2 separate regions of the Homo sapiens genome follow, and region 1 is linked to region 2. A link means that fine-mapping ties the variant in region 2 to the expression of a gene that starts in the linked region. Tissue or cell type: whole blood. Region 2 holds a variant in brackets; the other region holds the start of a gene. All regions are shown on one strand. Distances are between the middles of the regions.

Region 1 (8,103 bases), 91 kb before region 2:
CTCAGAGATCAAAAGCTCCGTCAAGTGACAACAATGTGACCTGGAATACGATACTTTGTAGGCCCTTGTTTTCTTTTCTTTTTGAGGTAGGGTCTTGCTCTGTCACCAGGGTGGAGTGCAGTAGTGTGATCACAGCTCACTGCAGGCTTGAACTGCTGGGCTCAAGCAATCCTCCCACCTCAGCCTCCTGAGAAGTTGGGACTATAGGCTTCAGGCATGCACTATCACATCTGGCTAATTTTCATTTTTTAATTTTATTTTCTTTCTTTCTTTTTTTTTTTTTTTTTAAGAGAGGAGGTCTTACTATGATGCCTAGGCTGGTCTTGAACTCCTCAGCTCAGGTGATCTACCTGCGTTGGCCTCTCAAAGTGTTGGGATTACAGGAGTGAGCCACCATACCCGGCCAACCCTTGTTTTCTTATCTGTAAAGTGGCAATAGTGATACCAGACCTCAAAGGATGAGAATTAAATAGTATGTATATCATGTAACTAGCGTAATGGTTGGTGTATAACACTGAGAAAAGCTGAGCTGTTGTTATTTTCCTCCTCTGTGGGTTCAGTTACCAAAGCAAAGCCATTGGACTACACTAGTTCTCATCCATTTTCTGCCCCAGCCCACCTGAGTATCGTAACATTCTCATGAGAATAACCTAGAATCTCCAGAGGAATGTTTCTCAACTAGAGGCACATGGGATTCTTTGAGACAGAGGAAGGCAGAGAAGCTTCAGAAGCTCTCCAAATGATTTGGCTACAGGTCTCTAGGGAAGTGCGGGTTCCCATGGAGAGTGAACGGACTACGTGATCTCTGAGGGCTTGTTCAATTGCCTCTGGGACTCTCTGACTTGCCCGTGAGGACTGGAAATACCTGTGAGAAAGGAAACACCAGGTGTTCCTGGAGACTCCTCCAAACCCTCACACAAAGGCGTACAATTAGGTGCGAAGGATTGTAAGCTGAACCCCGGCTGTGCGAGACTTCTTATATCTTTACAGCTTCAAGATGTGCAGCACAGTGGAATAAACAGTAATGACTGTGCCCAAGCAGCCACAGCTCCTTCACTACCTGACAGCAAGTGAAATGTCTGTTTTTCTGGTCTCTTCTCTAACATGCCACACCAGGAAGCTCCACTGAGTAGCAACTTTGGTAGCACAGGAATCTTTAGGACCATATATCAAAGTAGTTAATTAAATCCAGCAGTTCAATAAATGTGTATTGCCAGGCAATGTTTTAGGCACTGGGGATACACCACTGAACAAAATAGGCGAAAATCCCTGCCTTCTGGGAGTTTACATTCTTGAGGGGTAAAGACAGTATACAGTAGAACAAGTAAGTTCTATAATACGTTAGAAGATAGTACGTGCTTCGGAAAAACCCACAGCCTACCAAAGACAACAGAGAGACCAGGGAAGGAAACGAAATTAACTGGCTGGCCCCAAAAGTGGCAGACATATCACACATCCATATCACGTTTCCTGCTGCTGCACCGCGACCTCAGCTACTTCCTGCTCAGGTCAGCCTTGTTCAACCCACATTTCCTGGGAACCTGTGCTGCTAGGCCCACACCTCTACAGATTCTTCCAGCTAGCACCCCAGCTGCCCCAGCGTGGTGAAAGGAATCACCACCCACCTAAGCCATGTCTGACTCATGTTTCCCCCACGCCCATGTGTGATCCACCAGATAGTCCTGGAGGCTACAGCACCACGGCACTTCCTGAATCTGGTGACTTCTCACCGCCTACCCTGACTGCTCCACTGCTGGCCCAAACCACCCTCACCTCTTACCTGGATGACTGCGGTAGCCTCCCAAGAGGTCATCCTGCCTCCATTCTTGCCACACTGCCAGCCATTATCCACACAGGGCCCAGAGTGATTTTCTTAAGCTTCTATGAGATGTCTTTCCCTTTGCTTCAAACCCTCCCTCCAAAGGCTTCCCCTAACTAAATTCTGACATACGCGCTAAATTCAGCACAGCTCGCAGGCTTTGCCGTTGGGCCTGATAAAGCCTTCTGTGCCCTTATTTGCCTTCACTCTTCCTTCTTCATGTTGCTCCAGCCTCTGTATTTTTCTTGACCCTTGAACCCACCAAACCATTCCTATCTCAGGGCCTCGTCCCCAGCTGAGGATACTTGCTGCCCTTTCCACCCCAAAACCTTCAGATTTTAGCATGGCTGCCTCATGTCCCCACATGTCCCCTAAGGCGTGGCCCAGTCACTCTCTACCACACTGCTCTATTGTTTTCACGTCTCTTGTTGATGGTTTCTTGACTATATTCTGCCTCCCGACTCTGCCCTCAGTTTGAGGACAAGACTGCCTGTCTTGTTTACCACTGTGTCCCTAGCACCCAGAGCAGCCGCTGGGTGACTGGTTGCCTGTGATGCCTGCCAGTGCCTTCTAAAAAATCATCCCTATTCTTCAAAGTTCACCTGAGATCCCACTTTCTCTTTGAGGTCTTCCCTGACAGTCCCCAACTTCTCAACTCTTACTGCCCCTCCTGTCTATGCTTATTACTCTCTGTGCTGCAGGGTCCTCACAGCCAGTCGCCTCCTCATTTCTGTGAGTGCTGTCTTCCTCACTCCCTACCAGTCCCTGAGGACAGAGGCAGCTCTAATTCAGGCGTAAGAGCAAAAGGGCAAAGCATCTGTGGTCAGGAGGCACAGGTTCAAGTCCTGGGTCTATCACTCACTGGCTATGTCTCTTGTCAAGTTACTCTCTCCTGTGAAACAGAAACAATAAAAACAATGCTAGCTGGGTGTGGTGGCCCACACCTGTAGTCCCGCTGAGGCAGGAGGCTTGCTCGAGCCCGGGAGTTTGAGGCCAGCCTGGGCAATAAAGCAAGACCTCATCTCTAAAAAATACAAAAACAAAAACGCCCCACAACACTACCTTCAGGATTATTGCGATAACTAAATAACGTCAGTGAAAGCATTCTGTACGTTGTCATGCACTCAAGAGAATTCCCAGCTCCTAATCCAGTCAGGGCTTGGAAACTGTTTCTTGATTGGTGGGTAGCCAGAGCTAGAGCTGGTAAGATATATTTTCACATTTAAAAGGTCCTTTGTATCCCCACCACAGGCGCCACGGTATCCCCATGTGTCAGTCAGCATGAGGAAAAACGAAAAGTTCACAGCTCCTATGGCTGCTGACCTTGCAGCTCCACGAACGCTGCTTCCACCAGGACTGTCACTATGGTGCCAGGCCAGGGACCTGTGGCAGAGTGCAAGCAGCCTTGTACGGGGGAGGGACGCACCAGAAAACCTGGGCTTTTGCTTTGGTTCAGCCACTACTCCGCTCCCCGTACACAAATTCTGCTCCACACTGGGCCTCAATTTCCTGATCTGCGCACTCAAGAGCTGGGCTAGATTAGTGTAATCTTCAGACTTGAAAGTCATCACCACCACCAACAATGACTGTTTTTTCTCAATGAATTATCAAGGAATACATAGAAAACATAAAAGCAGAGTTATTTTGGCTGAAGTGGAGAATAAGGTGCCCAAAACATCTTATCTACTGTAGATCACCTCCAAGGTCTTTTCAAGATGGAAATTTCTAGGATTTCTACGATTTTAAAATTGAAAAAGAAATTGCTGTGCCTCATTTACTTTTGATATAATTTTCTGCAATTAGTAATTGACACGGTAGAATAAGCTGCTAGAAGTTTTCACAATGTAATTTACAACTGAAAATGACTTTGGAAGTTGATATGCCTTTGAAATGAAAAGCATTCTGTTTTCTAAAGCTCCACTCACGAGTCCTCTAAAGTTAAAGGAAAGTTACTAAAATGACAGGATCAGAAATAAAGCCAACTGGAAAATAAGCAGCCCTGGACAAGTTCTACCTATCACCACGTCAATTTTAACAACTCACTGCAAGCTGCTTCTGTGCCTGTGTAGCGTGCTGCGAAAACCACCGGATGAGGCCAACCTCGTTAAACCCTGGTTCCATTCCTTCCCCAACCTGCCATGTGACCTTGGACAAACCCCACAACTTTTCAGAGGTTTTCTCAGCTACGAAACAGGAGTGATGACAGCGTTCTCATCAATCTAACACGGCTAAAAGATTCAAATAAGAAAACTGGCGAAATGGCACTTTGGAAATTGTGAAATAATTTTCAAAGTGAGGGATTGTTACTTTATGCTAAAAAACAAAGCTGTCATGAGTCAATCAAACAAATGCCCCAAACCCCACAGGATAAAAGTCTGTCTGTCCTATCATCTATAATCTTTCAGAGTTGTAGGGCAGGGGAGAGGCAGGTCCAAAATGTAATCTCACCTTTAGAGAGAACAATCTCAATGAGGAGTGCGGTTTGTAGACTGGCTGGTATTCACACATGTGCTCAACAGCAATAGCCTAAGTCCACAAGTCTCTCAAGTGGAGGGTCAGGACTCTTGCTATTAAGTTCATGAAGTTCCTATCATAAAAAGAACCCTCTCTGCCTATATTTAGAAAAAACAACCAGTCTCGGGTCATTCTAGAGAGAAGGGCCAGGACTCACCAAATGTACCTCTGAGCTAAACAACAATTCCCCTAGATGGCTCAGACCCTCCTCCCTATAATGAGAGGCAGGTGCTAATTTCTAAGTAAGTCCTTGACTCAGAAGCCATTAAAGGTCACAGGCATCAAGAGACACAGGCCTGTGTAATGGAAAGACCAGCGGCTAGAGAGGGAGCAGACTGTCACTAACCTGCTGTGTAACCTCATGTAAGCCCCCTGCCCTCTGGTCATGGACTTCTCGATCAGTATACTAAGGGGACCTGAGATAATTTCTACAGCCCATTCACCGTTAAGATTCTAGGTTTCCTCTTGACATCCCTCTGTCCCCTGCACTGGTTCCAATACTCACCTTGTGGCCATGGCTGAAAAGTGGCAGCACAGGGAACCCTGAGGAGGCGAGTCCTGTACTCCCACCAGCCTATGTTGATCAGAGGACCACAGACCCTCTGAAGACAGCAACTTGATTTTTATAGCCTACTTAAAACCAAACAGGAAAAGGAAGCTGAACCAGAGACAAAGGGGAAACAAACCCAAGTGAAAAACTGAAACCTAGGTAGAAAATAGAGAAACAAGAAGCTAACACTGCAGAGCCCCACCAGCGTGGGCGGCTGAGAGGCACTGCACAGGCCCAACCCCCCACAGCTGGCAACCTCAAGCCTCTAAGTGCTTCCTGCAAGGGTGCAAGGGTGGGTGAAGCCTGCTGGAGGTAGGGGCCAGGTCATGGTGCTGGCCCCCCACTAACTAGCTCTATAGTCTAAGTCAATGCCACTTAAGATGTCTGAGCTTCAGTTTTCCATCTGTTATAGAAAGTGCAGGCTCAGCACAGATGACTTCCTATAGGCCTTAAGAAAAGGCTACAAGAACTCGGAAGAGTCCCCACTGACTCTCCAGAGAATAGAAGACTAGATGATAAAGGCTATAAGCTGATCAAGTCTTTTTTTCTTTTTTGAGACAGAGTTTCACACTCCTGTCACCCAGGCTGGAGTGCAATGGCACGATCTTGGCTCACCGCCACCACAGCTTCCTGGGTTCAAGCGATTCTCCTGCCTCAGCCTCCTGAGTAGCTGGGATTATAGGCATGTGCCACCATGCCCAGCTAATTTTGTATTTTTAGTAGAGACGGGGTTTCTCCATGTTGGTCAGGCTGGTCACGAACTCCCGACCTCAGGTGATCCGCCTGCCTTGGCCTCCCAAAGTGCTGAGATTACAGGCGTGAGCCACCGCGCCAGGCCACTGATCAAGTCTTCATATTTGACTCTGGAACAAAATTTGTACTTCTACCGAGGAGACAACTCTCTCTAATGATGACATTTAAGTCAGCAATTTAGAGCCTGAAAGGAAAACACTTGAGGAATACTGGAAACTTGGCTTTGTCACTTGTTTATTAAGTGGGTGGCCTCAACTGTAAAATGGGGTTATACTTATTTTGCCTATCTCCACAGGGTTCTCATGAAGGTAAGATCCAGTCCAATCTTTCTTTCAAAATCTACTGAGAACTCACTAAGAAGCATGCACTGTGTTAGAAATCACAGACAAAAAATTGAGAACGACTGTACTTGTCCTTAAAGGACTTTTATGGTTTAGAAAAGAAGAGGTTGATAATGTTAGCAAATATTTAATAGATCCATTAAAATATTATTGATATAGTGAAAAACAGCTGTACAGAGTACAGTACAAAAGAAGTATCAGTTCTAATTGGAGAGATGAATGCACTTTGAATGCTAAAAATGCATTTTAAAAGGCTTTTAATGATATACATTTCCCTTTAAGCACTGTTTTAGTTGCAAACCACAGTTTGGATGTATTGCAGTTTTCTTTTTTCTTTTGGTTCAAAATATTTTTAATTTTCTCTAGTGATTTCTTCTTTTATCCATGGATTATTGATAAGTGCTTCGTTAAATTTTGAAATATTTGGTGTTTTCCTATATCTGTTGCTACCTATTTCCAATTTAATTCTACTGGGGCCAGAGAACATATTTGGTGTGACTTCTTCCTTTGTTTTTCCTGGTATGATCTCAATCCTTTCACATTTATCAAAATGTGCGTTATGGCCCAGCATGCAGTCTACCTTGGCGGATGTAGCATATGCACAAGGAAAGAATGTGTATTCTGAAACTGGTCGGGTGCAGTGTTCTAGAATGTCAATTAGGTCATGGTGGTTAATAGTATTGTTCAGAACGTCTACGTCCTTGTTACTTTTTGTTGCTGTTGTTTGTTTTTGTCTAATTATTCTATCAACTGCTGAGGGAAAGGTCCTGAAATCTTCAACTGTGACTGTGGATTTCCCTCTTTAATTCTGTCACTATTTCTTGAAGCTCTTGTTAGGTACATTTTTCCATGCAGCATTGGTTTTCTGCGGCTGCTGTAACAAATTACCACAAACTGAGTGGCTTATAACAACACACACTTATTATCTTAGAGTTTTGTAAGATGATAGGAGGTCAGAAGCCCAACATCATCAGAAGTTCCACATAGGTCTCTCTTGCTCACCTCTCTCAGCTTCTGGACACTGACTGCATTGCTTTCTCATAGCCCCTCTGTCCACTTTCAAAGCACGCAGCAGTGCTCCGACCCTTCTTCCACAGTGACATCTCTTTCTGACCGCGGTGTGGACAGGTTCTCTACTTTTAAGGACTCGTGTGATTAGACTGGACCCAATGGATAATCCAAGATAACCGCTCCATCTCAAGGTCCACAACTTTAATCACGTCTGCAGAGTCCTTTTTGCCATGTAAGGTAACATTTTATTTATTTACTTTTTTAGAGGCAGGGTCTCTTGCTGTCACCCAGGCTGAAATGCAGTGGTGTGATCATAGTTCACTGCAGCCTCAAACTCCTGGCTCAAGTGATCCTCCTTACCTCAGCTTCCTGAGTAGTTAGGACTATAGGCACACACCATCATGCCTGGCTAATTTGAAAACAGTTTTTTAAATAGAGATGGGGTCTTGCTATGTTTCCGAGGCTGATCTCAAACTCCTGGCCTCAAGTGATCCTCCTGCCTTGGCCCCCAAAGTGCTAGGATTACAGGCATGAGTCACCATGCCCATCCCATGTAAAGTCACACAGTCACAGGTTCTAGGGATTACGGCGGGGTGATGGCATTACTCTGCCTACTACCCATCCTTTCACTTTCAGTCGATTTGTATCTTTGTATTTAAAGTATGTCCTATAGGTAGTGTATGACTGAGTCTTGCATTTTCACCCAGTCTGACAATTTCTATCTTTTAATTGGGGTATTTAGTCTATTTACATTTAGTTTATTGATGTAGATGGATACAGGTCTACTACTTTGCTATTTGTTTTCTGTTTGTCTCATCTGTTTCTGGTTCCTCTGTTCTTCGTTTCCTGTATTCTTGTGGGTAAACTAAATACTTTTCAGAATTCCATTTGAATTTCTCTATTGACTTTTTAGCTATACCTCTTTTTTTTTTAGAGGTCTTTCTAGGGATTACAATATACATTCTTAACTTTGTAGGGTACACTTAGAGTTAATATTGTACCACTTCAGTAAAATGTTAAGAACTTCATAATTGCATAATTTCATTCTCCATTCCCATCCTTTATGGTGTAGCTGTCATATGTTACTCAAAATACAATGTTACATATTTTTGTTT
Region 2 (8,103 bases):
AGGGAAAATGTTCACAGAAGAGAATGTTCCCAATAGATAAATGACTCGAATATATAAGCAGAAATAGATTGCATATTGTGTATATGTGGGTGGGTTTTTTTGTTGTTGTTTTTTTTTTAGCAACTGCAGAAAGATTTAGTAAGTTTCTGTAAATCTTTTAGGTATGGGGATTATTTGTGTATGGGCGGTGAGAGTGGGGGATGGGAGTGTCTAGTTCCTTACACCTCCTTACCCCATCTAATCCAGTACCAGACAACAGTAAGCCTTCAAAAAACGATTTCTCAATGAAAATATGAAAATACATAGAGTCTGTTAGAAAAAGAGAAACAAGAATTCAGGCAGTAGTCTAGAAAATAAAGAAAAACTGAGACTTAGACTTCTTTATTTGAATAAGTCGATTCAATAGTACTTTTTTGCTAAAATAAGTGGACATGTGCCTCGAGTGTTTAGCTCACTTGTTAGAATGCATCTCCAGCGTTATGGCTTCCTGAGATGCTCCAAAAGGAACACAGTTTGGATATTACATTCTAGACTTTTAGCAATAGGTCATATCTACGTACTCTCATGACAGTATCTATCAAGAGAAATAATACGTTACTTTCATTTTAAAAATTTAGGACTGAACAAAAAGGAAAGTGTTATCATAGGTAAACCAAATTGCTTATAAATAATCAAATCAAATCAACTGACAACAAAGGTAATGAAAAGTCCCCCTGGATTCATTTAAATCCATGTACTAAAGCCAAGTACTTCAGGTACAGGTAAATATACACGTATAGGTATTCAACTATAAGCAGTCTGCAATGGAGAACCAGGTTAAACTGTAGCAATTTTAAAAATCTGTGTAAAAAATGACTGACTTAAAAAAAAGAAAAGAAAAATGGCTCTTCATTCTGGAAAAACCACTTAAGAACTTTTATTTCTACATCCATGCCTTTTTTTTTTTTTGAGACAGAGTCTCGCTCTGTCGCCCAGGCTGGAGTGCAGTGGCGCGATCTCGGCTCACTGCAAGCTCCGCCTCCCGGGTTCGCGCCATTCTCCTGCCTCAGCCTCCGGAGTAGCTGGGACTACAGGCACCCGCCACCATGCCCGGCTAATTTTTTGTATTTTTTTTTAGTAGAGACGGGGTTTCACCGTGTTAGCCAGGATGGTCTCGATCTCCTGACCTCGTGATCCACCCGCCTCGGCCTCCCAAAGTGCTGGGATTACAGGCGTGAGCCACCGCACCCTGCTGACTTTTTTTTTTTTTTTTTGAGACAGAGTCTCGCTCTGTCACCCAAGATGGAGTACAATGGCAAGATCTCAGCTTACTGTAACCTCTGCCTTCCGAGTTCAAGTGATTCTCCTGCCTCAGCCTCCTGAGTAGCTGGGATTACAGTCGCCCACCAGCACGCCTGGCTAACTGTTGTATTTTTAGTAGAGATGGGGGTTTTGCCATGCTGGCCAGGCTGGTCTCAAACTCCTGACCTCAGGTGATCTGCCTGCCTTGGCCTCCCAAAGTGCTGACATTACAGGCATGAACCACCGTGCCCAGCCATCCATGACTTTTTTAGATCCCAAAGAATGAGATCTGAGAATGCTCTTATGCTACTGTAGACTCAAAAATTAAATGTTCTGGCCAGGCACGGTGGCTCATGCCTATAATCCCAGCACTTTGGGGGGCCGAGGTGGGCGAATCACGAGGTCAGGAGTCTGAGACCAGCCTGGCCAACACAGGGAAACCCCGTCTCTACTAAAAATACAAAATATTAGCCGCGCGTAGTGGCGGATGAAAATACGATGTATTAGCCGCACATAGTGGCGGATGTCTGTAATCCCAGCTACTCGGGAGGCTGAGGCAGGAGAATCACTTGAACCTGGGAGATGGAGGTTGCAGTGAGCTGAGATCGCACCACTGTGCTCCAGCCCAGGCAACAGAGTGAGACTCCATCTAAAAAATAAAAATAAAAAATAAATTAAATTTCTATTCAGGAGGACTGGTTAGAGCATAATTTTTATCAAATAAATAAGGAAATCAAGACAGGAGAAAGGAACCATGGAAAGGAGATAAAAGTACCTGCCCCCCAAATCTTTTGTTTTAATGACCTGAGCTAAACTGCTATTTTTTTCAATTAATTATTTATTAAGAGGAGTTAAAGACTTATTCTTAAAGTTATCTTGATTCCAAAAGCATTTCACAAACTGGCAGAGATAATCTAATACAATTAGGACAGAACACAAGAAAATAGGTGTCACTGTTCTCTACAGCTTCCATAACCTGGTAGCATGAATCTCCAGAATTGAATATTGACTCAAACTGTTCCTGAAAATGCAAAAATCAGGGACTTTTACTGATAGTAACTGTGGACTAATCAGAACAATCAGAACAATCCTCCATCTAAAAAGAACTAGAAACGCTGGGAAAAATGTAAGAAATACCTGCTTGGAGGCACGGGGGAGGAAAGCAAGTCAGAGCCTGAGAAAGTGAGCTCAGTGTTTGAGGCTAATTTTCCTGAAGGGTGTTTATCAATTCTGAAGGGAATGCTAAAAGATTGGCGCTGGGGTGGAGAGTAAAGGTGCTGGTGAAGAAGAGAACATTAGGAGGAAAAGTGAACAGAACAGGTTTGTCTTCACAAGAACTGCAGCTCAGCTTAGAGATATTTCAATCCCTGAAACTGTACTGAAGGCAACGCCAATTGTAAGTGCTCCCATGTGCCTTATAACAGCAGATATTAATTATCTCTGGAAGAAAAAAGCATCATCTTAGGCCTCAAATTATTCCTACAAATAATTTTGCAAATATGATGTTTACCACACATTAAAAAAAACACTAGGCACATAAGGAGACAAGACAATATGAATGAAAATCAACAGAAACAGACACTGGAAACAACTAACAGATTGCCATAATTGAACATGGACTTTAAGATAATTACACATACTATGTTAAAGGAGGTAAAAGACAAGACTGATAATTTTGGCAGATAGCTTGGAAGTATAAAACAGAAACAAATAGAAATATAAAAATCAGCTGGGCACAATGGCTCATGCCTGTAATCCTAGCACTTTGGGAGGCTGAGGCAGGAGTATCACTGGAGGCCAAGAGTTTGAGACCAGCCTGGGCAACACAGCAAGACCCTGTCACTTAAATAAATAAATAAATAAATAAATAAATAAA[TAAATAAATAAAA/A]GCTGGCCATGGGGGCGTGTGCCTGTAGCTGCAGCTACTTGGGAGGCTAAGGTGGGAGTTTAAGGCTGTAGTGAGTCATGACTGAGCCACTGCACTCTAGCCTGAGCAAAGGAATGAGACTCTGAAAAATAATAAAAATAAAAAACAAAAAAGAAATTTAAAAATAATTTTTAAAAACCCTGAAATTAAAAACTCAATGGGTGGTTTTAATAGCAGATTATATACAGCAGAGGAGGGGTGATGGAGAGAGACAGACAGTGAGAAGGAGATAACCAGAATAAAGAAGAGAGAGAGAAACATGTAAAATGCAGAGAAACAGTTAAGAGACATAGAAGATATAGTGAAATGGAATAACATGGGGGTCCTCAACCCCTGGACATGAACTAGTATCGGTCCATGGCCTGTCAGGAACCAGGCCACACAGCAGGAGGTGAGTGGCAGATGAGTGAGCATTACTGCCTGCAGTCTGCCTCCTGTCAGATGAGCTGAAGTATTAGATTCTCATAGAAGCGTGAACCCTATTGTGAACTGTGCACGCAAGGGATCCAGATTGTGCACTCCTTATGAGAAGCTAATCCCTGATGATCTGAGGTGGAACAGTTTTATCTGGAAACTACCCCCCTAACCCCCCAAGGAAAAATTTTCTTCCATAAAACCAGTCCCTGGTGCCAAAAAAGTTGTGAACTGCTGGTCTCACATATATCACTGTAGCCCTAGAAGGAAAGGTAAGAGAAAATGGGGCAGAAGAAATAACTGAAGTACTTATGGCTGATGATTTCCAAAACCAATGGAAGACATGAAGCCACAAATTCAAGAATCCCTAAAAACTCTAATTATAAATAAAAAGAAATCCATACTAGGGACAGTATAGAAAAATTGCTGAAAACCAAAGACAGAACTTTAAAAACAGCCAGAGAAAAAGACTACTTTCAAAGGAACAAGAGACTGACAAGTGACTTCTCAACAGAAACTAAGTCATAGATAATGAAATAGCTTTAAAATGCTAAAAGAGTTCTCCAAGAAAACACCAAATGGCGAATGAGACCAGTGCAGTGGGAGGGCCTAGAGGCCCCAAAATGGGAAGCCACAGCAGTGGCATCCAGGGCTAAGGCTGGGGCCACGGAGCTGGTGGTGGCAAGGCCAAGGCCAAGGCCAAGGCCAAGGAGTAGGTCCCCATCATCAAACTGGGCAGCATAGTCAAGGACATGAAGATTAAGTCCCTGAAGCTCTATCTCCTCTCCCTGCCCATCAAGGAGGCTGAGATCATCGACTTTTTCCTGGGGGCAACCCTCACGAATGAGTTTAAGATTATGCCAGTAAAAATGGAGACTTGCACTGGCCAGTGGTCCAGATTCAAGGCACTTGTTGCCATTGGGGACTAAAATATCCATGTCGGTCTGGGTGTTAAATGCTCCAAGACGGTACCTACTACCATCCAAGGAGTCATCATCTTTGTCAAGCTCTCCACTGTCCCGGTGCAGAGAGGCATCTCAGGAGACAACACTGGCAAGCCCCACGGCATTCCTTGCAAGGTGACAGACCACTGCAACTCTGTGCTGGTACACCTCATCTCTACACACAGAGACAATGGTTTCATCTTGATCTCTGTGCCCAAAAAGCTGTTGATGATGGCTGGCATTAAGGACTGCCACACCTCAGTCAGGGGCTGCACTGCCACCCTGGGCAACTTCACCAAGGCCACTGTTAATGTCATCTCAAAGACCTACAGCTATCTGATCCCCAAGCTCTGGAAGGAGACCATATTCACCAAGTCTACCTATTAGGAAACTAGGAATTCACTGACCAGAGTCTCCACTGCAGAGAACCCAGGCTCCAGCTATGGCTATTATACAATGCAGGATTTTTATACAAGAAAAATAAAGTGAATTAAATTTTTAAAATGCTAAAAGAAATCAATGGCAAACCAAGAGTTCTATAAAACTAATAAAAAGACACTTCACAAATGGAAAAAAGTTCTAAAATTAGATGTGGTAATGGTTGTATAACTGAATATTCTAAAAACCACTAAACCATAGGCTTTAAATGGGTACATTTTACTGTGTGAATTATATCTCAATAAAACTTACAAAAAAGAAAACAATGAAGAATAAATAATGATGTTTTTCGACAAACACTAAGAATTTGTTGCCAGACCTGCACTAAAGAATACTGAAGAGTATTCTTCAGGCAGAAAGAAAATAACTCCAAAGCGAAGACTGGAAGATGACAAAGGTGGTACAACAGAGTTATGGGGAAAAGATTATCTTTTTAATAAATGGTGCTGAAAAAAATGGTGTTAAGTAAAAATAAAATTTAACCCCTTTTTCACATTATGTCACACAAAAATGAATTTCTGGTGAACCATATATCTTAATGTAAAAGGGAAAACACATGTAAGCTTTCTAATATTTTACAGGAAACTATTTTCGGTGGCTCATGCCTGTAATCCCAGCAGTTTGGGAGGCCAAGGCGGGTTGATCACCTGAGGTCAGGAGTTCGAGACCCGCCTGGCCAACATGGTGAAACCCCGTCTCTACTAAAAATACAAAAATCAGCCAGGTGTGGTGGTACGTACCTGTAATCCCAGCTACTCGGGAAGCTGAGACAGCAGAATCGCTTGAACCCAGGAGGCAGAGGTTGCAGTGAGCCGAGATCGCACCACTGCACTCCAGCCTGGGCAACAGAGCGAGACTCCGTCTCAAAACAAACAAACAAAAACCCAAGAGAAATGTGGGCAAGATATCTGAACAGGCACTCCAGAAAACTATACCAAATAAAAATAAAAAGATGTTCAGCCTCATCAGTCAACAGGAAACTGCAGATTAAAACCACAATGGGATATCATTTCATAATCACCAGAATGGTTAAAATTTAAGACTGACAATACCAAGTGTTGAGAAGGAGGTGAAGCAACAAGAACTCTCACACATTTTTTGGTAAGAATGTCAGCTCGTAGAACCACTTTGGCAACTTGGTGTTTACCGCTAATGCTAAAGATATGCTTATCTTTTGACCTAAAAATTCTACTAGATATCTACCCAATCGAAATGAATGCACCAGGAGATACACAACAATATCCATAACAGCATTATTAATAGCCAACAAAGCTAGAAACAACTAAAATGTCTAGTAACAGTAGAATGCGTACACTGTGGTATATTCTTACAACAGAATACTATAGACCAATAAAAATGAACAAATAACGATTACAACGGAATGGATCTCGAAAACATCTTGAAAAACACCAGACACAAAAGAATACTGTATTATTTCATTGTCATAAATAATACAAAACAGGCAAAACGAAACTATAGTTACAAACTACAGTTTTTACGAGATACGTGTTCAGAAAGCAAAATTACAAATGGAAAAAAAAAAAGTGATTACCCCAAAAAAGTCACGACAGGATCTGGAGAGGAAGGGAGGGTTTAGCGACTGGGAGAGGGCACCGGGCTTCTGGCAGAAGCAAGGTTTTATTTCTTGGCCTGATAATCAGCAGGCTCCCGAGCTGGGTGATACATCAACGAGCGGTACATTTGGGGGCCTTGCACTTTACTGGCGTGCAAGAAGAAAAAAAAGGGGGGTTGAGAATTAGGAGACGAAGGGGTTGACGGGCTCCAAGTCGAGGGGAAACTACACCTGTAAAAGCCCAAACGCGGCTCTGGGCGCTGGCAGGGGGAGGCTTCGGCAACGCCTGGGGGCTTCAGGCCAGCCTCCTCCGGGCTGGAAGGCACCGCACAGGGGCTTCCGCCAACTTCGGTCCTCGCGCGGTCGGGACACGGCCACACCTGCCCGCGGGGGTCTGCCTCCCAGGCCGCCGCAGGCCCCCCGGAGCCTAAGAGGACCCCACAAGCAGCCAAAGCCAGCGCCGCCTGCCCCTTGCAGAACACTGCCCCCCACAAGCCCTGCAGACCCTCCCGGCTCTCCAGACGCCCCCACGGCTCTCGCGAAGCCATTCCCGCGCTCTGAATGCCCCCGAATCTCTGCAGAGCCCCCGCGGTTCTCTGGAAGCCCCCGCGCCCGTGGAGCCCCCCTCCCGCCCTCGGGGGCACCGCGGGCCCCCAGCCCAGCCCCTCCGACGCTGGCCGCTGCCACCTCCCACGAGGCGCCGGCCCCGACTCACCTCATTGTCGCTGCCGGGGACGGGCGCGCCGGGCCAGGGGCGACCCGGCGGCGGCGGCGGCGGCGGCGGGGCGCGGGACGCGGGCGCTAGCGGGGGAGCCGGCCCCGGGCGCGGCGGCTCCGCGTCTGACTGGGCTGCGGGGGGCAGCGGGGGCTCATCTTCTCCGGGTGGGCGTCGGGGCCGCTAGCTGCGGGGAAGGGCCGCGGCGGCGGCGACTGACAGCTGGGCCCCGGCCCCTGCCATCTTGGCGGGCGCGTGCCCGGGCCGGCGTGTGCGCGGGCGCGTGCCTGGGGGCCGCCGCCGGGGGATGGGGGGGCGGGGGGCGAGCCGGCTGGGGTCCGGGCGGCGGGAACGCGTGCGCGTCCGCCTGAGACTCGGGGCGGCGGCCCCTGGCGAGTGCGCGGGCGGCTCCGAGTCCTCGAGGGAGAGGCGCGCGGGCGCGCGGGCTAGTCTCAGCACAGCAGCCAAGAGCTAGGGTACGCGCGTTGCTGTTCGCCCCACCGCCCTCCGAGGGGACTGCGCGCGCGTGCGCCCCTCCGCCCGCGGCCGCTGAGGTGAATGAGCGCGCGCGGCGGTCAAAGCCCGACACAAAAGGCGCGGGGCCCCACCGTCCGCGCCTCCGGGAGCGCTGAGCTTGAGGCTGCGAGGGGCGGGGCGGACGAGAGTGGCGGGGCTGAGGGGCGGGGCTTTGAGGGAAGCGCGAGGGGCGTGGCCGGGGTGGGGGCGGGGCGCCGGGCGGGCACGTGGCGCGGTGCGCTCCCTCCCGGCGCGGACGCTCCTCCAGTCCCCGCCTGACCCCAGAGCTCACAGA

Evidence for each region. PIP is the estimated chance that this variant, and not a neighbour inherited with it, causes the effect.
Region 1: EVL starts here. The variant in region 2 is fine-mapped to the expression of EVL in whole blood (INTERVAL, PIP 0.96).

The regions. Positions count from the first base shown.
Region 1 is chr14:100,062,247-100,070,349 of GRCh38, reverse strand. It overlaps EVL (Enah/Vasp-like), which reads right to left and starts at 4,928. Exons shown (of 14, transcript NM_016337.3): 1 at 4,839-4,928. The coding sequence starts at 4,849. LOC124903379 (a long non-coding RNA gene) reads left to right here and starts at 6,306. Exons shown (of 2, transcript XR_007064329.1): 1 at 6,306-7,220. RefSeq lists enhancers at 1,123-1,172, 1,333-1,422, 1,504-1,798, 778-1,977, 2,553-2,622 and 6 more.
Region 2 is chr14:99,971,247-99,979,349 of GRCh38, reverse strand. It overlaps a transcript of EVL not described here and the pseudogene RPS2P3. Among named protein-coding and RNA genes, the nearest start is that of EVL, 90 kb to the left of the region's middle. RefSeq lists silencers at 7,757-7,836, 7,977-8,026. The variant TAAATAAATAAAA/A (reference allele first, on the strand shown) is at 3,158.